3 linked regions of the Homo sapiens genome follow. The protein of the gene in region 3 interacts with the protein of the main gene of each other region in a pairwise test. Each region holds a gene or a part of one and is shown on either strand. Other genes may lie near its edges.

The links.
Region 1: the proteins of PROM1 (region 3) and TMEM165 interact in a protein complementation assay, tested with the Homo sapiens proteins (one study listed by IntAct).
Region 2: the proteins of PROM1 (region 3) and IFITM1 interact in a protein complementation assay, tested with the Homo sapiens proteins (one study listed by IntAct).

What each region holds. Positions count from the first base shown.
Region 1 is NC_000004.12:55,398,943-55,405,971, reverse strand, and holds part of TMEM165 (putative divalent cation/proton antiporter TMEM165 precursor), read right to left. Parts: intron 2,737-7,029; exon of another isoform or gene 2,652-2,736; coding exon of another isoform or gene 2,634-2,651; intron 1-2,633. UniProt on the Homo sapiens protein: Putative divalent cation:proton antiporter that exchanges calcium or manganese ions for protons across the Golgi membrane.
Region 2 is NC_000011.10:309,695-315,787, forward strand, and holds IFITM1 (interferon-induced transmembrane protein 1), read left to right. Parts: upstream 1-4,345; 5' UTR 4,346-4,476; coding exon 4,477-4,662; intron 4,663-5,227; coding exon 5,228-5,419; 3' UTR 5,420-5,578; downstream 5,579-6,093.
Region 3 is NC_000004.12:16,074,013-16,081,041, forward strand, and holds part of PROM1 (prominin-1 isoform 1 precursor), read right to left. Parts: intron 4,292-7,029; exon of another isoform or gene 2,416-4,291; intron 2,107-2,415; 5' UTR 1,895-2,106; coding exon 1,675-1,894; intron 1-1,674. UniProt on the Homo sapiens protein: May play a role in cell differentiation, proliferation and apoptosis. Binds cholesterol in cholesterol-containing plasma membrane microdomains and may play a role in the organization of the apical plasma membrane in epithelial cells.

The sequences.
Region 1 (7,029 bases), about 39 Mb from region 3:
ACAATGTGAAAGAATATAGGCATGTTCTGAGAACAAGAAGTAAACCATCAGAAGAATGGTTGGGGCAAGATGAGAAAGATAAACTGGGCCTGAAATTCTTTATGTTTGTGGACAAGCTCAGAGGCAAGAGGGAAGTCATTACATATTTTTGTGTAACACATAAACACCATCAAGGCACTGTGACCAATTATCAGGGCAGAGTGGGGAGTATCAGCCACTGGATCAATCAGGAGGTCAGCTGCATGAAACCCGTGTTAAGACAAATAAGAGAAGGAAAAAATTCTGCACACAATGGAAAGAAAAATCACTAGACCTTTAAAAAAAGGTAGGCGGGATGGGGGGAATCAAAGATGGTGGTGAGGTTTTCTGGTTGGCAGAAATATTAGTACTCTTAAAACGCTATTATGTATTTAGTACTCTTAAAAGGTATGTCGGAAAGGGGAATAAAAACAAGGGGTTTGGTTTCATATACATTCCACTTGGGGTGATAAAAAGCATTTCAAATGAAGGTTTGAAAGAGGTTATCAGAAATGGATCACCAGAGTTTAGCCTAGGACAGCCTCAAGGTATGTAGCCTCAAGGTTGACAGCCTTCGTGTCCTCAATAGGCTCTTGGAAACTGCAACTTTAAGTGAAATGATGTAAAAGAAAACCAACTTTCTTTTCTCATCAATGTTATAATGAAACAACACTGAATTAAAATGACATCATTGATGTCATTTCACTTAAAGTGACCATTTCCAAGAATCTATTAATAACATTAAGTGAGGACGTACTCTATCTGGTTGCTGGCAGCCCAAATTTATCAGCTAAAGCTCTGCAAGTAGATGAGATTTCCAACAGATAAGGCAAAGAGATAAAGTTCAAAGAATGCGCCTTAGAGAATGTCTTTATTCAAAGAAGGTGGAGGGAGGAAAAAAAATAGGAAAAAAAACTATCTTAGATATTTCGAGCCAGGCAGCAACTAAAGCATCACAGACCGTCAGGTTGGGGTGCGCTACTAACTAGATGCGAGATATTTTCAGACACATTGTTGCATTTGATACTCAAAAAAACTTAGGAGCTGTTTTAAGTTTTAATACAGGAAAACTGAGGTCAAACGGGCTTCATTATTCTGCCAAGTTCATACACCTGAGATGGATTCTTAAACAGTAGAGAATTAACAGTGTCAAATGAGAACTGAAAAAGATCCCTGGATTTAGCAATTTGCTAACTTACAAGATTCTTTCAAAAAATGGAATTTGTGGTGGCTCATGCCTATAATCCCAGCACTTTGGGAGGCCGATGCAGGAGGACTGCTTGAGGCCAAGAGTTCGAGGCCAGCCTGGGCAACATAGTGAGACCTCATCTCCACAAAAAAAAAAAATAAAATAAATAAAATTAGCCAGGTGTGGTGGCATGCACCTGTAGTCCCAGCTACTTGGGAGGCTGAGGTGGGAGGATCACTTGAGCCCACTAGTTCCAGGCTGCAGTAAGCTATGATTGTGCCACTGAACTCCAGCCAGGGCGACAGAGCAAGACCCTATCTTTAAAATTAAAAAAAGAATTTCAAGGAAAAGGCAAGGACTGAAGCCAGATAACAACATACTAAAGTAAAGTGAAAAAGCAGCAAATCCCCTAGTTAGAAGTTTGGTTTATAAAACTGAAGAAACTAATATGGCTGGGCATGGTGGCTCACGCCTGTCATCCCAGCACTTTGGGAGGCCGAGGTGGACAGATCTGAGGTCAGGAATTCAAGAGCTGCCTGGCAAACATGATGAAACCCCATCTCTACTAAAAGTACAAAAAAAAAAAATAGCCAGGCGTGGTGGCGCACACCTGTAGTCCTAGCCACTCGGAAGGCTGAGGTTGCAGTGTGCCAAGATTGTGCCCACTGCACTCCAGGCTGGGCAACAGAGCAAGACACTGTCAAAAAAAAAAAAAAAAAGGAAAGAAAGAAGGAAGGAAGGAAGGAAGGAAAGAAAACGAAACTAATAGTCAAGTTAAGATTAAATGAATGACCTTTTTCTTTCTTTTCCAAAATAAGAGAAACATATGAACATGTGTAAGCAGATACAAAGGAAGCAATGGGAAGGGAGAGAATAAAGGCACTGAGGGAGGAGAATAGGAACGTGGACACAGAGAGGAGGTACACAAAGGATGACAGTTTTGTCCAAAACATGAAAAAGGCAGACAGTACAGGCACAGAAGAATATACTTGGATGCATACAGGATTAGATGCAGTGTGCAATTTCAATTTTGGTATTCCACTATTCAGTTATACAGTGTTATATATCATGGTAAGTAATGAGATACTAGTGTTTTGGTACAAATACCACTATTTCAGTATTTTAATAATGTCTGAAACACACCTTACTTACATCTTGAGAGCAGGATTAACAACTTAAGATTTTTTTAAAAAAACTTGCTTAATAAAAACTCTTTTCTAGTTAAAATTTTAATTCCAAATGTAAAAATTGTAAAAAAAAAAAAAAGAAAAAGAAAAAGGCACCCTCATTTAGAAAGTATTCTTTTATACTTTCATGATCCTCAAGAGAAGGAAGAAAAAGAAAATCAAAGAAAAAAGTAATTCCTTTTCTAGTTCTAGAGTTCAAATAAACACAAATGTGACTGTATTGAAATTGATACAGATACCTGCATCGGAATCTCCATCTATACATGATGAAACTAGAGAAGATGAAGATGCTTTCCTTGAAACAAAATCTACAGCTTGCTACCAAGAAAAAAACTGATGTCCCTGCAAAAAAACAGAAACAAAGTTGCTCAATAAGTTATCAAACAAGAGGTGAGATTATCTGAAGACAAAGGAGTCAGAAGAAAATGCTTACAATTTGCTTAGAACTGTCTCCTGGGCACTACTAAGTCAAAAAAGCTTTTTTTAGGGGCCGGGTGTGGTGGCTCATGCCTGTAATCCCAGCACTTTGGGAGGCCCAGGCGGGCGGATCACGAGGTCAGGAGATTGAGACCATCCTGGCTAACATGGTGAAACCCCATCTCTACTAAAAATACAAAAAATTAGCTGGGCGTGTGGCGGGCACCTGTAGTCCCAGCTACTTGGGAGGCTGACGCAGGAGAATGGCGTGAACCCGGGAGGCAGAGCTTGCAGTGAGCCGAGATCACGCCACTGCACTCCAGCCTGGGCGACAGAGCAAGACTCCGTCTCAAAAAAAAAAAAAAGCTTTTTTTAAAAGTTGTAAAAATGTGCCCAAAAATATATATGCACTTAGGCCGGGCATGGTGGCTCATGCCTGTAATCCTAGCAACTTGGGAGGCGTGGTAGGTGGATCACTCGAGGTTGGGAGCTTGAGACCAGCCTGGCCAACGTGGCAAAACCCCATCTCTACTAAAAATACAAAAATCAGCTGGGCGTGGTGGCATGCACCTGTAGTCTCAGCCACTCTGGAGGCTGAGGCATGAGAATTGCATGAACCCCGGAGACAGAGGTTGAAGTGAACCAAGATCTCACCACTGCACTCCAGCCTGGGTGACAGTGAGACTCTGTCTCAAAAAAAAAAAAAAAAAAAAAAAAAAAAAAAAAATATATATATATATATATATATATATATATACACACACACACACACGCACGCACTTAAACAATGACACCACAGATAAACCTGATTTCGAAAGATAACATTAAAGTATTTTAATTTTCATTACGTATTTTTGTGAATGGTTTCACTATTTTTAAATACTTTATTGTTACTTGTTAATTTATATTAGAATTTATATGTAATATTTTGTAATAAAATTATTTTTTGTTTTAATGAATGTTTATTTTTATGAATGTTGTTTTGTAATGTATTTATGCACTTGAAATTTATTAAATGTGTTTAGTTTCTTTTTTTTTTTTGGAGACAGAGTTTTGCTCTTGTTGCCCAGGCTGGAGGGCAGTGGCACGATCTTGGTTCACTGCAACCTCCACCTCCCGGGCTCAAGCGATTCTCCTGCCTCAGCCTCCTGAGTAGCTGGGATTACAGGTGTGTGCCACCACGCCCAGCTAATTTTTTGTATTTTCAGTAGAGATGGGGTTTCATCATGTTGGCCAGGCTGGTCTAGAACTCTTGACCTCAGGTGATCCACCCACCTCGGCCTCCCAAAGTGGAGGGATTACAAGCGTGAGCCACTGCGCCCGGCCTTCATTGATTTTATTTTTAATGAATTTTTTTGATGACAGCATACCACTAAATAAATTCAGTATTAATATAATTACCTTCTGAGAAGGTAATTATGAGCAGGCGTCCTTATAACTGATTGCCTCAATCTTAGCTGTATAAAGGCTAGAATTAGGAGGCTGGACTGGGTGGAGTGGGACTGCAACTTAATGAAAATAGAAAAAAGTTTAAAATGTTTTGTAGAAGGTACTCTCACAGCTGAAACGTAATAAATAAATGAAATACCAAAACATAAAGTAAAAATATGATAACAAGAACAGGCACTGAGTCAGGTAATGATTTTGTGGCTTTATTAGAAGTGCTATGCAACCAGAGTCATTCTTCTTTGGACTTCCAGAATATGCAATAAAGTCTAAATGACTTTTATTAAATCTATCTGATCTCCCTCAACTCAAAGGACTTATGTTTCTTATATTACATATTCTGTCCAGGGAAAGAGTAAGAAAAAACTATTGAGTAAGTCACTAGAAACATAAACTGCAGAAAAGATAGGATCCAAGTAATCAACAACACTTTTTATCATGGGTTTGTAAATTGGGGGTTAATCTTGATTTTAAGTTCATATTACTTACCAACCTTTTTTTAGCCTAATTATAGAGAAAAGCACATACTCAATGTAGAATGCCCTGTTAGAAGTTCAGTCACCTTGCTTTTAGCATCCTATAAGATACAACTAGGTTTTTATAACATATCTTCCACTTGAATGCCTACTAACCAAGGAGAGATGCTTCCCCCCTCCATTTTCAGAAGCCCACTCTCACACAGTGGCACAAAAAGGTTAAATTTAAATATCCTACCTACCCTCTTAAAACATCTACTGCATGTAGTTGCAAAGCAAATCCGTTGAAACTTACATATTCAGCAAGGCTCAACTCTTGCTAATACTGCTGTTAAACTGTACTTTGATCATTTCTTACCTCCATCAGGTGGACAAAAATAGCCAATGACACTTATATTACATAGTTTAGAAAACATGTGAAAGAAAAATCTTTCAGCATAGTGAGTACCGTAGAGGAAAAAATACTTGAGTAGTATCAAAAAGTTACATAAAAATATAATTAAGGCCAGGCGTGGTGGCTCACTCCTGTAATCCCAGCACTTTGGGAGGCCGAGGCAGGCGGATCACCAGGTCAGGAGATGGAGACCTCCTGGCTAACACGGTAAAACCTCGTCTCTACTAAAAATACAAAAAATTAGGCGGGCATGGTGGCGGGCGCCTGTAGTCCCAGCTATGCTGGAGGCTGAGGCAGGAGAATGGCGTGAGCCTGGAAGGCAGACCTTGCAGTGAGCCAAGATCACGCCACTGCACTCCAGCCTGGGCGACAGAGTGAGACAAAAAAATATATATATATTATATATATTATATTTTTATATTTTAATATAAATATATTAATTATATTAATATTATTTATTATTATTATATTAATATAATTAATTATATTAATATAATATAATTAATATTATATTATATATAATACAGTATTAATATTATATATAATATTATATATAATATATAATATTATATTATATATTATATATTAATATAATATAATATTAATTACATTAATATATTAATATATAATATAAATATAAATTATATATTTATATATTATTTTTTATATATATTATATATATAAAATAAAAACAAGACAAGGCCAGGCATGATGGCTCATGCCTGTAATCCCACCACTTTGGCAGGCCAAGAGGGGAAGATCCCTTGAGCCCAGGAGTTTGAGGGCAGGCTGAGCAACATAGTGAGACCCTGTCTCTAAAAAAAAAAAAAAGGAAGAAAAGAAGACAATTATATTCTATTATAATACAAAATTAGAATAAACAATAATAAATAAATGCCTAACTAAAATGAATCACCAAGAATATATGAAAATATTAAACGGAAAAATCATATTATATTATACCCACCCTTCCCTCCATACCCCTAGTTTTAAAGACAAGGATCCCTTCCCAGCTACTCAGAAGGCTGAGGCAGGAGGATGGCCTGAGTCCAGGAGCTGGAGGCTGCAATGAGTTATGAGCTATAAGAAGACCTTGTCTCTATAAAAAAAATTAAATAAAACTTTAAAAGACAAGAATCCTTAAGACCATTTAATATGTTTACTGGACACTGTTTCTACCACTGTGGCATTCTGCATGGCTAGATTTTTCCTAGCTTCTTAAAAAGGATATTAGTAGCTCTACACCTACCATCATTTCTATCTTAAAAATTCCAATATGACTAAAACTTCAACAAAATACCTGCAAAGTTACATATTCATAATCTCTCACTCACACAATTAACTTAATCCAAAATAGTTATTGTTTTAAAATAAATGTGATACTGGGGTAAATGACAGGGCTAAAAGATGAACACTAAGAATTAAGTTCATCAATCAGCGTTTCAGTTCAATTACTGAAGTGGACATGTCAAGCAGGGTCAGCTGAGCCAGGAGCGACAAGCAGGGCAGTGTAAATGGGAACCCCACTCCTAAGCATATGGCTGGGGGTAGCAGGGCAGGCAGAAGGAAAAAGATGGAGAAGCCCACTCACCTCTTTGCTCTCCCCAAGTGGACTAAAGACCCTGGCTTCACATGTTAAATGATTCACACTTCTTGTACACCTCTGACATCACTGCATTATATCTCTCTGTTACCATGGGTTATTTACTCGTTGAGTTCCAGTGCTTTTGATCTTCTCTTTTTCTCTTTTTAAAAAAAACTTTATAAGAGTCCCGGAATTAACTATATAGTCAGCTGAAAATAAACTGTCTAAACCAACACCAATCCAATAATGGTTACAAAATCACATTATATCCAGCAGATGATAAAAGCTTAGTTCTCTTAATTCCATCTGGTGGATCC
Region 2 (6,093 bases), on a different chromosome or scaffold from region 3:
ACAAAGGCAGTAAATTATTTTGTGACATGTCTTAGATTTTGAGGAAAAACAGAATTGCAACTTAGGTTTTATCTAATTTTATCTACTTTATGACCTTGCAGCAGCATGGCAAAAGAGACAGGATTTTACAGGACTTTACAAAGTATGTTCACAAGGAATTGGAATTGGGAGCATAGATAAGGTCCGCTGGTCACAGAAAAAGGGTCTTTTAACATTCCTTTTAGTTTTAGGGGAGGGGGAAGGAAGAGAGGGAGAGAGGACACAGGGAAGCTTACAGCAGAATTTTTGCTGTTTATAGCTTTCTTGGGGAAGGAAACACATGCACAAATCCTGGTGTTAGGAATATTTTAGGCATGTATCTTCAGTACTCTTCATCCAGGACCGAAGTAAGTCCTGATGCAGGAAATGAGTGTTTCACAGCTTTCTGAACCCCTACTCGACCCAGGAAGCCCAGCTGGACCCTCCTTTCATGAGCAGGTTGGTCAGCCCCTGCACTGCCCCTTCCAGCCTCTGTGCATCTCTTGGGGACGGGGCAAGTGCTCAGGCCTTCTGGTTTCGGGCCTCCTGCCGTGAGCAGCAGCTGGATCCAGGACCCTGGGAGGAGTTCCTGTGTCCTGCAGGTCTCAGCTCCTACTCAACGTGGGCTCTTTCCGGGAACGTCAGTGCTGAGTCCGGGACACCCTGGGCCCAAGGCCACGCTCGCGGCCTGTCGGCAATCCAGGCTGTCGGCTCAGGACAGAGGGAAGGGTTAAGCCCCCAGCAGGGCCAGGGAGGGGCAAGGTGGCACCGGCTCCCCAGCTGCTCCCAGGCCCTGCTCTGTGGTGCTGGGGACCTGGCTTTAGTTCCTCGGGGGTGGAGGGGGCACCGCGCTGCCTGCCTCCGAGCTGTCTGGAGCAGCCAGTCCTGCAGATGTGGGCAGCTCAGGGCCCGTGGGAGGGAGGGGGCTTTGTGCCCAGGGCAGCAGCTGAAGGAGCCCCGGGCCTCGCAGCCCCTCCTGGGTGACCAGGTGCTGCTTCGTGGCAGCTGCCCCCTCCCGTCCAGCGGGTATGGGCCCTGCTCCCCCGTGGTGGGGGCGGCGCAGGAGAGTGGAGCGACCCTCATCTAAGTTACCTCTACCCGGGTCTGAGCCCCCGGACAGACACCCCCGCCCCGACCTGGTTACAGCGCCCTTCCCCGGTTCGGTCTCCGGTGTGCGCATGTGGGGTGCCCCATGGGCGGCCGCGGTGGGAGCTGGGGTGGCCATGCGCGCCCCCGCCCCGCCGTCCACCCGCGACTCCAGGTCTGGATCTACTCGCCCTCCCCACCCTTTCCCGCCCCCAGCCCCGGAGCCGCGCTCTCACCCCAGGGGCGGCAAGGGCGATGGACGCGGAGGAAGCGCCCTCTCCCCCTCGGGGGTCTCCCGGAGGCGAGTCCCGAAGGGGGCGAACTCCGAAGTGGGTCCCGGGTGGGAGGCGCGCGGCCCCGCCCGGCGGGGAGGGGGAAGCGGCGGAGGCGGGTGCTCAGCGGCGCCCCTGGCGGCGGCCGGCGCAGGTGCAGGTCCCGGAGGAGGCTCCGCCCGCAGCCCAGACCCCCGCGGGGTGGGCGGGACGCGGACCCTGAGACCCGCAGCGCCGGACCCGGACGGGAGCCCCTCTCCTCCCCCTCGGGCACGTCCCCGGCCGAGCCTTCCCGCCCTCCTCTGGGGCTCCCACCTCCCCTTCACCCGCGGGGGACCCGATTTCCGCGTCTCCTGGGCCCCTCCCTGGGCAGGGGGTCCAGCCGGAATCCAGGAGTGACCTGCTGGAGGACTTGGTGGCCAGGGAGTCACCCTGGGAGCCCGGTCCTGTGACCCCTTAATGGATTCTCTGCGCTCCTGGGCGGGCCCCTTGGTCGCATCGGGGCAGGGGAATCGCAATAAGGAAAGTGTAATTCACGCAGAGCCGGCTGCGGGGGAGACGGGAGTTTTATTATTACTCAAATCCTTCTCCCCAAAAACGTGGGGATCCGAGTTTCGAAGGATGATATGGTGGGTAGGCGGCCAGTGAGTCAGGAGCGCTGACCGGTCCGGTTGGAGATGAAGTCTTGGGGAGTCGAAGCTGTCTTCCCAACCCTAACCCAGCTCCTCGGTGGGGGCCACAGGACCACATGAGCAAGATTGTGGATTTAGGTGGTGCCAGCTGATCCATTGAGTACAGGGTCTGTAAAGTATCTCAAACTCTGATCCTAGGTTCTACAGTAGTGCTGTGATCCCCGGGAGCAATTTAGGGGTGGCGGGGTCAGAATCTTGCATCCTCCAGCCGCGTGACTCCTAAACCATAATTTCTAATCTTGTGGCTAATTTGTTAGTCCTGCAAAGGCAGTCTGGTCCTCAGGTAGGAAGGGGGCTTGTTCAGCCTTGATCTATAAACTGTTTCTCTCCAGATTAGTTTAGGCTAAGCCCAGGGATGAGCAAGGGCAGCTTGGAGGTTAGAAGCCAGGCGGAGTGGGTTAGGGTCAGACCTCCTTCACTGTCATCATATTCTCAGTTATGACTTTTGCAAAGGTGGTTTCAGTTCCATGCCTGCCCCTCAGAATCCTGTCTCCCTCTTGTGCCCTGCAGTTTCTTCCTTCCTAAACTGCCCGTGATTTAAAGAAGCTTCCAAAATACCTTCCACGGGAAATTCAAGCCCCACCCCACTCCGCAGTGATGTGTGGCCTTTGATAGGAGGTCACAGAGCCTTGTGAGGAGTTTGTGTAGGCAGTCCTCGATGTCTCAGAGCACGCTCCATCCACATCCACCCCTGGCTTGCCGGGACCCAGACATAGTTTGGTCTAAGTGGCCTGGGATGTGGCTGGGGCTGGAGGCGGCCTGTTGAGGGGTGGGTGGAGGGTGGGGGGGTTGGTGTGCGATTTGGGGAGGCCCAGCAGGGACTCCAAGCAAGGGCAAGGGCTAGTTCTTTTTTTTTTTTTTTAGCTGCAATGGGTAGGGAGGGGCTGATGGTTTTGGAGCTCGGTGTTTGAGATGTTAAGTCTGCTGATGCTCCTGGCCGAATAAAGGCCAAATAAAGCCCTTTCTTTCCTCAACTCGATGTCTGAGGGTTTTGTCTGTGGCTCGTCCTGCTACAATTTCTAACGTTACCAGTAATTTTAAAGCTAGCTTATTAAAGATTCTACTTAAGTCACATGAACGTGAAAAGCATTTAGGCTTATTATTTAATTTATGAGTACTCTTTAAGTTTAAGCTAAATTTGGTAACTTGTGGCCAAAAACACATAACGAAATATGTGTATGTGCACATATACACACATACACACTCAAGCAAAAGTATGGTTTTACTTCAGAACTCCAGCCATGAGATAGTAATACAAATTCATTGGTTTACACAAACAATAAAAAGAAATGGTTGGATGCAAACAGTGGATTTTATCTCTGTAGAAAAGTAACAGCAGACTTAAAGCAGGCAGAAACGAAAGCAGAAAGAGAACTTAAGAACATTACATTAATAATTGCAGGCCCACCTTTGGGCTCTGATTTTTCCTTTATGTAATTTGCAATTTGTAATTCATGATCCTTGTGCCTGAGGGCTCCCTTCTGCTACTCAGTCTACAATTCCCCGTCCCTGTGAAGGGGCACCCAGGCCTGACAGCCCCAGACTTGGCTTTGCCAACCCTCCAGGTCTCTCCTGCATGGCTAGGACCCAACGCCTAGGTCATCCAGCACTCACCCCAACCAAAGCCATGGGAATTGCTGGGACCCGGAAGGTAGGGGGTGGCACATGTGTGCCCTGTGCTCTGAAGCTGCCCCTACAGGCCCTGGAATCCTCCCCGTGTCTCAACACACTACCCTCTGGGGAGTCAGTTCTCCCCAGAGTCCCCGTTCCTGGGCCTGGAGGGCTGCTTTGGGGCAGGAAACTTTGGCCACCAGGCCTCTGACCTGCACCAGGAGACACTGGGAGGTTTAGTCCCCAAACCCGCACAGAGCAGGACTGCAGCCTGAGGAAAGAGCAAGGATTTCAGGAGAGAGGCCTGCGACAAGTGAGGTGAGGGCTTTTGGGGGATTGTCCTGGCGCCTGGAGTGTGGGGGCCTGGCAGGGGCCCTGAACCGGGACAGTGAGGTCCTGTACTTGCTGGCCTGGGGTGGACAGAACCCAAGCCTGGGTAAAATCCCCAGGGCCCCCTAAACCCAACACTTAGGAAGTCACTAGTCCTGACTTGAGTTTCTGATGAGGAAGCCTCTCTCCTTAGCCTTCAGCCTTTCCTCCCACCCTGCCATAAAGTAATTTGATCCTCAAGAAGTTAAACCACACCTCATTGGTCCCTGGCTAATTCACCAATTTACAAACAGCAGGAAATAGAAACTTAAGAGAAATACACACTTCTGAGAAACTGAAACGACAGGGGAAAGGAGGTCTCACTGAGCACCGTCCCAGCATCCGGACACCACAGCGGCCCTTCGCTCCACGCAGAAAACCACACTTCTCAAACCTTCACTCAACACTTCCTTCCCCAAAGCCAGAAGATGCACAAGGAGGAACATGAGGTGGCTGTGCTGGGGCCACCCCCCAGCACCATCCTTCCAAGGTCCACCGTGATCAACATCCACAGCGAGACCTCCGTGCCCGACCATGTCGTCTGGTCCCTGTTCAACACCCTCTTCTTGAACTGGTGCTGTCTGGGCTTCATAGCATTCGCCTACTCCGTGAAGGTGCGTATGGCCCTGGCGGAAATCCAGGGGGTGCCGGTGAGCCTGGGGCTCCACCTGCCCACATGCTGCCTGGGGTGGGGACTTGTGTGTCCCTGTGACTGTGAGTTTGTGTGCACCTCTGCCCCGTGTGTGCTCACGTCAGTAGCTTTGTCTGTGTGATCTGTGTGTGTGTGTGGCTTTGGGGAATCTGCCCAGTGCAGGTCTAGGAGGAGGCTCCAGGAGGCTGGCTGGCTGGCTCAGAGTCTGTCCCTGGCTATCCATTAGCCCAGAGCAATTCTCCCTATAGCCCAGTAAGAAATTACACCCTCACCTTCCAGACTGGCACCCAGGCTCTCCCAGAAAGTGAGAAGGGAACTCACAGGTGACTTCACCCCATGGTGGGGAGAACAGCCTGTGCTGGGGCCAAGGCAGAAGGAGGATGAGCCCCGAGGCTCCTGGAGAGTCTGAGCCCGGGTGAGGAAGGGGAGGAGGTGGTCCCTGATCTCAGGGCGGGGAGGAGACGGAGCCATAGCACGCGGCTCTCAGCTGGGGGATCCTGGTCCCCTCACCATCTCCTCTCCCCCAGTCTAGGGACAGGAAGATGGTTGGCGACGTGACCGGGGCCCAGGCCTATGCCTCCACCGCCAAGTGCCTGAACATCTGGGCCCTGATTCTGGGCATCCTCATGACCATTGGATTCATCCTGTTACTGGTATTCGGCTCTGTGACAGTCTACCATATTATGTTACAGATAATACAGGAAAAACGGGGTTACTAGTAGCCGCCCATAGCCTGCAACCTTTGCACTCCACTGTGCAATGCTGGCCCTGCACGCTGGGGCTGTTGCCCCTGCCCCCTTGGTCCTGCCCCTAGATACAGCAGTTTATACCCACACACCTGTCTACAGTGTCATTCAATAAAGTGCACGTGCTTGTGATGATGCTGTGACTTCATCTGGAGTGGGGGCCCTGCTGAGGGGTCCCGGCCTAGTCCTGAGACAGCCCAGTGCTCAGCCCCTGCACAGCCGTATCCCTCCTCTGTGAAGCTCTCAGGGGAGCAGGGATATGCTCAGAATCTGCTGGTTTCCGCCTCCTGCTGTGGGCAGCATCTGGACCAGGAACGTGGGGTGGGCATTTCTCTGACACCAAGGTAAGGACACACTGTCCAGAATACCTTTGGGCCAGGACAACCTGCCTCTGAGCTGGCTGGGCAGCTGGTCTTGCAGATGTGTGCACCTTAGGCCCTGTGGGAGGGGCAGGGGCTTTGTTCCTAGGGTAGCAGCTGAAGGAACCTCAGGGCTGCAGCCTCTCCTGGGTGATCCAGGTGTGCTGGATCCTAGCAGCTGCCTCCTCCAGTCCAGCCGGCATCTTCCCTGCTCCCCTGGGGTGGGGGCAGCCAATGGCCCGAGGGTGGGGCGCTCGCGAGGGCCTGGGAGGGCAGCTTCCGACCGGG
Region 3 (7,029 bases):
CTTTTTGAGGAAATGATTGTAAATTCATATTCGACAACTGAATTCTATGCCTTTTATATTAAAACAAAACCAAGAAGCAAAGACTAAAAACATTAGTAGGAAACTAGTTTAAAAGGATGAATAAGACCTAGTATCTGATAGCACAACAGGATGACTATAGTCAATAATAATGTAATTGTACATTTTGAAATAACTAAAAGAGTAATTGGATTGTTTGTAACACAAAGAATAAATGTTTGAGGAGATAGATACACCATTTTATATGATGTGATTATTACACATTGCATGTCTGTATCAAAATATCTCTTGTACCCCGTGAATATATACACCTACTAGGTACCGACAAAAATTAAAGAGTTTTTTTAAATAAAAATGTTAGTAGGTTATTTTATTCAGTAACACATATTAAGTCTCCAAATAAGCCAAGAGATGTCTATTCAGAAGAGTGAATTTGCATCCAATGTTAAGAAATAAACTCTAATTTTCTACTTCTGTCTTTGGAATTTCCAAAGTTAGTATTTTTAACAGCAACATAAACAGTAAGTAGCATTCGTTCAGGATTCTCTTCAATGCCAATAACCATTCAAAGAGATTTGTTTTGGTGAACTGAAATTTAAATTAGCAAAAATTGACAACTATACTTCAAGCTGTTTTAATTGCCCTAAGACAAATAAGTGTTAAAAAACCAATACAAATGTATTTTAATGAAAATATATAAACTCCCCATAATATAAACATGTGATGATATTCACTAAATACATCCTGTCTCTCTTCCTCCCTCTCTCTCACACACAGGCATGTACACACACCAGTAGGACTCTTACAAACAGTAGCTGAACAGCTAAGGAAAATGATAAGAAAGATTACAGCGAATTCTATAATCAATGATTGTAATCAAATCTTTGTAACTAAAAGAACAGGCTTAGGATGGACTTACTGTTAAGCCAATCAAAAATTTAGGTGCCAAACCCTAGTAGCAGATATTTCCCACAGGCTATTTTTACTTTCATAATCCCTTTTCTATGAACACATACCCTGAATTCAGAAGAGTATGGAAAACAACAAACATTAAGAAGGCGAAAATGACAAACAGCACTGTGTGTGATGAATAACAGCACTATGGCATGACAGTTCTGGAAAGTGCCAATCCTCTTCCTCACACCCAAGCTCTTAGAAATGAAGAAAACAGCTGATCAAGTAAACATGTTTGTCCTTACCCTAAGCAATGTCAAAATTTGCATATTGTGGTGGGCAGAAGAGAGTTAAATTTTTAAGCGATGAGGTGGCCATCAGTTGCTAGTTATTCGTTTCTCCTTTGATGACACACAATTTGCATTTTTACCCTAACTTTACTCTAACTTTTACCTTTGGTAAGTGCCTTAGAATAATTCATTGCTCTAACCCAAACAAAGCAAAACCAAGCAAAACAAAAGGTAAAGAAGTGGAAAACCAACATAGCAACATCGTTTGCTTCCATTTCTTATAATAACATTCCTCGCAACCTATGTAACCTGGTACAAGTCTTCTTAACTTCTGTCTAAATGCTTTCTGCTTCTGTGCAAAGCAATCGCTAAAATACTGAATATATTATATATTGATTGCATTGACATTAAAAAACAATATTGTGGGTGCGTTTGGAGATAAATCCTATCTTTCCCTGCCATCAGCACTTACCTTCTGGGAAATCACGCGGCTGTACCACATAGAGAAAGATATGCACTAGTTCAAAGAGAATGCCAATGGGTCCAGCTTTATGGGAGTCTTGGGTCTCATAATTTGTTGCAGGCAATTCATAATTCCAAGCCTTAGGAGCATCTGTGGATGAAGGCTGCCCTCCTGAAAAGGAGTTCCCGCACAGCCCCAGCAGCAACAGGGAGCCGAGTACGAGGGCCATAGCTAGCAAGATCCTCCAAACATGAGGTAGAACTTGGTGCCTCCTGCCTCAGAGCTTCTGGAAGCCTTGGGGAAGGCAAGCGTGTTCCTGGGCAGAAGAGGAGCAGGAAGCACTGGATCTGCTGAATCTTCAGTTTTCTGTCTGAGGCTGGCTTGAGGCGAGGGATGCGGAAGAATGTTCTCCAAGGGGGTCATTCACTCAAGGCACCATCCCTGGCAGGGAGAGAAACAGCAGCAGAGTCATCAATGCGTGTAAACTGCCTGCACCTGGAGCTGCCCGGAGAGGACGCTGCAAAGCTTTAGAGCAAGGCCTCCAGCCTAATCCGGATGGGTGGGTGGAAACCAAGCACACAACCTGCTCCAGAGCCACAGGGCAGGTGCTGGCATCAAAGCCATGACTCACAGAAGGTCCCTTCTCAGGAGGGCCAGACTCAGAACACAGACCCTTTATGGGTTCGGGAAATACTAAATATTGTAGAGAAAGCTTGAGATCTTGGAAACTAACATTTATTGAGCACTTACTATCTTCCAGGCACTGTTCTCCATGCTTCATAGATAGAAACAAGGTCCTCCTTGTTTAAGGCATTATTCCATTTTGCAGATGAGGAAACTGACACAGAGAGGATTCTGGTGACTTGCCCAAGGTCACAGGTGATTAACCATGTGGCCAAGAGTCAAACCCACTAGTTTGCCTTCAAAGTCCAAGATCTAACTATGACATCAAGACACTGTCCCTTCAGTGCCCTCCCTAATGTGGGGAAAAGAAAGAGAGATCAGATTGTTACTGTGTCTGTGTAGAAAGAAGTAGACATAGGAGACTCCATTTTGTTCTGTACTAAGAGAAATTCTTCAGCTTGAGATGCTGTTAATCTATAACCTTACCCCCAACCCCGTGCTCTCTGAAACATGTGCTGTGTCCACTCACGGTTAAATGGATTAAGGGCTGTGCAAGATGTGCTTTGTTAAACAGATGCTTGAAGGCAGCATGCTCGTTAAGAGTCATCACCACTCCCTAATCTCAACTACCCAGGGACACAAACATTGCGGAAGGCCGGAAGACCGCAGGGACCTCTGCCTAGGAAAGCCAGGTATTGTCCAAGGTTTCTCCCCATGTGATAGTCTGAAATATGGCCTCGTGGGAAGGGAAAGACCTGACTGTCCCCCAGCCCGACACCCGTAAAGGGTCTGTGCTGAGGAGCATTAGTATAAGAGGAAGGCATGCCTCTTGCAGTTGAGACAAGAGGAAGGCATCTGTCTCCTGCCCGTCCCTGGGCAATGGAATGTCTCGGTATAAAACCCGATTGTATGTTCCATCTACTGAGATAGGGGAAAACCGCCTTAGGGCTGGAGGTGGGACATGCGGGCAACAATGCTGCTCTGTAAGGCATTGAGATGTTTATGGGTATGCATATCTAAAGCACAGCACTTAATTCTTTACCTTGTCTATGATGCAGAAACCTTTGTTCACGTGTTTATCTGCTGACCTTCTCTCCACTATTATCCTGTGACCCTGCCACATCCCCCTCTCTGAGAAACACCCAAGAATGATCAATAAATACTAAGGGAACTCAGAGGCCAGGATGGATCCTCCGTACGCTGAACGCTGGTCCCCTGGGCCCCCTTATTTCTTTCTCTATACTTTGTCTCTGTGTCTTTTTCTTTTCCAAGTCTCTCGTTCCACCTAACGAGAAACACCCACAGGTGTGGAGGGGCAACCCACCCCTTCAATTAACCATGCGGCCAAGAGTCAAACCCACTAGTTTGCCTTCAAAGTCCAAGATCTAACTATGACATCAAGACACTGTCCCTTCAGTGCCCTCCCTCTCAGGCTCTAGTACGAGCCACTGGGGCCCCAGCAATCCAGTACATGCTTATATGCTTATTTCTTCTCCAAGTGTGTGTTGTTCTCTTTGCCGCTGGAGATATATCTTACTCTGCCTTATATTCTACTTATTTACTCACTAATCTCATTTCAAACATCCCCCTCTCCACCTCACCCCGAATCCAAAGTAGAAGGGCATGGCCTCAAGTCTAGGGACCACACCGTTTGAGGCTGGACACATGTGCAACACTGGAACCTGTCTTTCTAATAAGCTTACCAAGTAATCCTGATGGAAATCTTCACCCTAAGTCACCACCTCTACAACTAGGGGTCTCAGAGATGAAAGCCAGGGCAGAGGGAGACTCTTACCTACCCCTTGGGAGACGGAGAAAGACACAAGAATCCTAAAAGCAGCTGTGGCTCCAGCATCTGGGAAGGGAATGGGACAGAAAGTGCCTCCAAGATGGACTCTGTCCTACTCTTCTTTCAATCCCCAGACCTTAACACTGGGCATGGCACGTAGTCGGTGTTTAGTAAGTGCCTGCTGAGCAGCTTGTTTCACTCATGGCACCATCCCTGGCAGGGAAAGAAATAGCAGCAGAGTCACCAATGCATGTAACCTGCCTGCAGCAAGAAGTGCCCCAGACAGGAGGCTGCAAAGCTTTAGAGCAGGGCCTTCAGCCTAATCCAGGTAGGTGGGTGGAAACCAAACACAGCCTGCTCCAGAGCTACAGGGCAAGTGCTGGCGTAGAAGCCAAAATATGTTATTTCCTTGTGCGGTTTCATGAGACTAGGCAAATCAGCACAGAACCTGGAAGGATCCCAAGTGTACCACTCTTCCTCTCTGTATTAAGTGTCCTGGAGCAAGAGCAAGCTGCTGTCACTTTGTGAGCTAGATACATACTTACTAACTTTCAAGATAAGTACAGGGTGCTCCTGAAACACATACTGTAAGAAAGGGAAGGGGGATGATGAAGAAGGTGACATACTTTGCAAGAAGCCAGAGGACCCACTACCAATATTCCAAGTCAAAGAAAGCTTTGGACAACAGATGGGATTTCTTGAGCTATTTGAACAAAGATGTTAATTCATATCTAATCCCTCCATTGCCTCATCTTCTAAGTCCTGTCCCACTCCAATTACTCCTGCACAAAGCTACCAATACAAGGGCCCCAAATTCTTCCTTTGTCAAATCATGGGCTGCTCAGATCCCAAGTGGCTGCCAGTACTAACCTCAGGCCCACGCTTCAGGTTACGCCCACCGTCACATCCACAATAGACACCTTGACCCTGGTGTTTCCAAAGGGCTCCCTTCAAACATCTACTGCAAGCACAACACACCACATGTACACTTTATCTTGGTTTTTTTTTTTGCTAAAGGACAGGCAGAGAGCTAAGCCTCCAGCACAGCAGCTGGAAGGATTAAAGGCTCAGATGCTGAGAAGGCCCACTTTCTGGTAATTCCACCAAACCTCAGCCCAGGACAGAGAGAAACTGCCAAGGGAAGAACTATGAACAAACAGGCTCTCCAACTCCCTCAGTGACAAAGCAGGGGAAGGGAAATTCCCAGTGAAGTGAAACATAACTGCTCACCGCAGCAAAGATGGGAGACAATGACTTGAGATAGACAGCAACTGCAGTTGCACTTCCAGATTTCTTTACATCTTGCTCCAAAATGTAGGTCCCTCTGAAGTTTTAAAGTACATTTTAAGAAAGTATTAATATCTCACTAACTATGAAATACTAGAAACTGATTAAAGTCAAGTCAAAGAGGAAGAGTTTTTTATCTCGGGTTTAATAGGTTGTGCCAAAAACAGAAGCTCTGAGTATTTACCAGCTAAACCCCACTAGGTCCGAGAGCCACTGAGAGTAGCATCTGTCTCGGGATAAAATGGGGTGTTTAGTTGAAATGCAGACTATTAATGGACCTAATTTCTGGGATGAAACCCATTAATCTGCATTTTTAACAAGCTTTCCTGGGGACTGATCCTTCAAACAAAGTTTGAGAACAGTTCTGTTCCTGGAGTACTCTGATCCTGGAGTACCCGCCTAGTCAATTCATGTCACTTTCCAAGGACACTTCAGGCTTCCCAAACACATTGGAAAATAACACATGTAAGGTGAAAGCTCCCCAAATGCCCTTTTCATATTGCTTTGAATTGATCTACCCCAGCTGCTGTGCAGGTCCCTGGCTTATTTCTGTATCCCCAGAGCCTGGAACACAGTTGGTACTCAATGAAGAATTGCTACCAGCCTGGGCAACATAGAGAGGCCCTGTCTCTACAAAAAAAAAAAAAAAAAAAAAAAAAATTTAAATTAGCAAACGTAGTGGTGCACAACTGTAGTCCCAGCTACTCGGAAGTCTGAAGCAGGAGGATTACTTGAGTCCAGGAAGCTGAGCCTGTAGTGAGCCATAATCATACCACTGCACTCCAGCCTGGGCGACCTTACATGATTTTGAGCCTGGAGTCCAGAGAACTGCATTTCAATACTGGTTTAAAAGCAAATATGGCCCGGGCGTGGTGGCTCAAGCCTGTAATCCCAGCATTTTGGGAGGCCGAGGCGGGCGGATCACGAGGTCAGGAGATCGAGACCATCCTGGCTAACATGGTGAAACCCTGTCTCTACTAAAAATACAAAAAAAATTAGCCAGGTGTGGTGGTGCACACCTGTAGTCCCAGCTACTCGGGAGGCTGAGGCAGGAGAATCACTTGAACCCGGGAGGCGGAGGTTGCAGTGACCTGAGATCATGCCACTGCACTCCAGCCTGGGTGACAGAGACTCCATCTCAAAAAAAAAAATTAAAAATGAAAAAGCAAATATGGTGATCAATCACCTTCATTTCTTCTTTTCTTCTTTTGATGGAACTTCTCAGAATCTTTCTTTTTAAAGAAGAGCTTTGTAGTGGATTTTTGTCATCTGGAGTGCTTTTGGCGGGGGCATGGGGGATACCCAACATCTGAGACCACGTTTGTGAGCTGGGTGGGAGGCAGCCCTGCCTTGCATTGTGAGGTCAGCTGAGGCGCCCAAACTGTGTCCTGGTGGAGCTGAGCCATGCTGGGCCAATCAGAAGCTTTCTTCTGGGCCTGGGCCTGCGCACTCTGAAGCAGGACAGTATCTAATTCATTCCAGCAATGATGGCAGCAATGCCAGTAGCCACATCCAGGGTCCTGTTCTGGCAGCCGCAGCCACCCACCCATCAGGGGTCCTGTGGCATGTCCTAGATTCCTAAGCCTGGCTAGCCAGCCTTGCTGCCACTTACCTAAGCCACCCAGGGACCATCCTTTCAAGAAGTCCTTTTATATATATACATA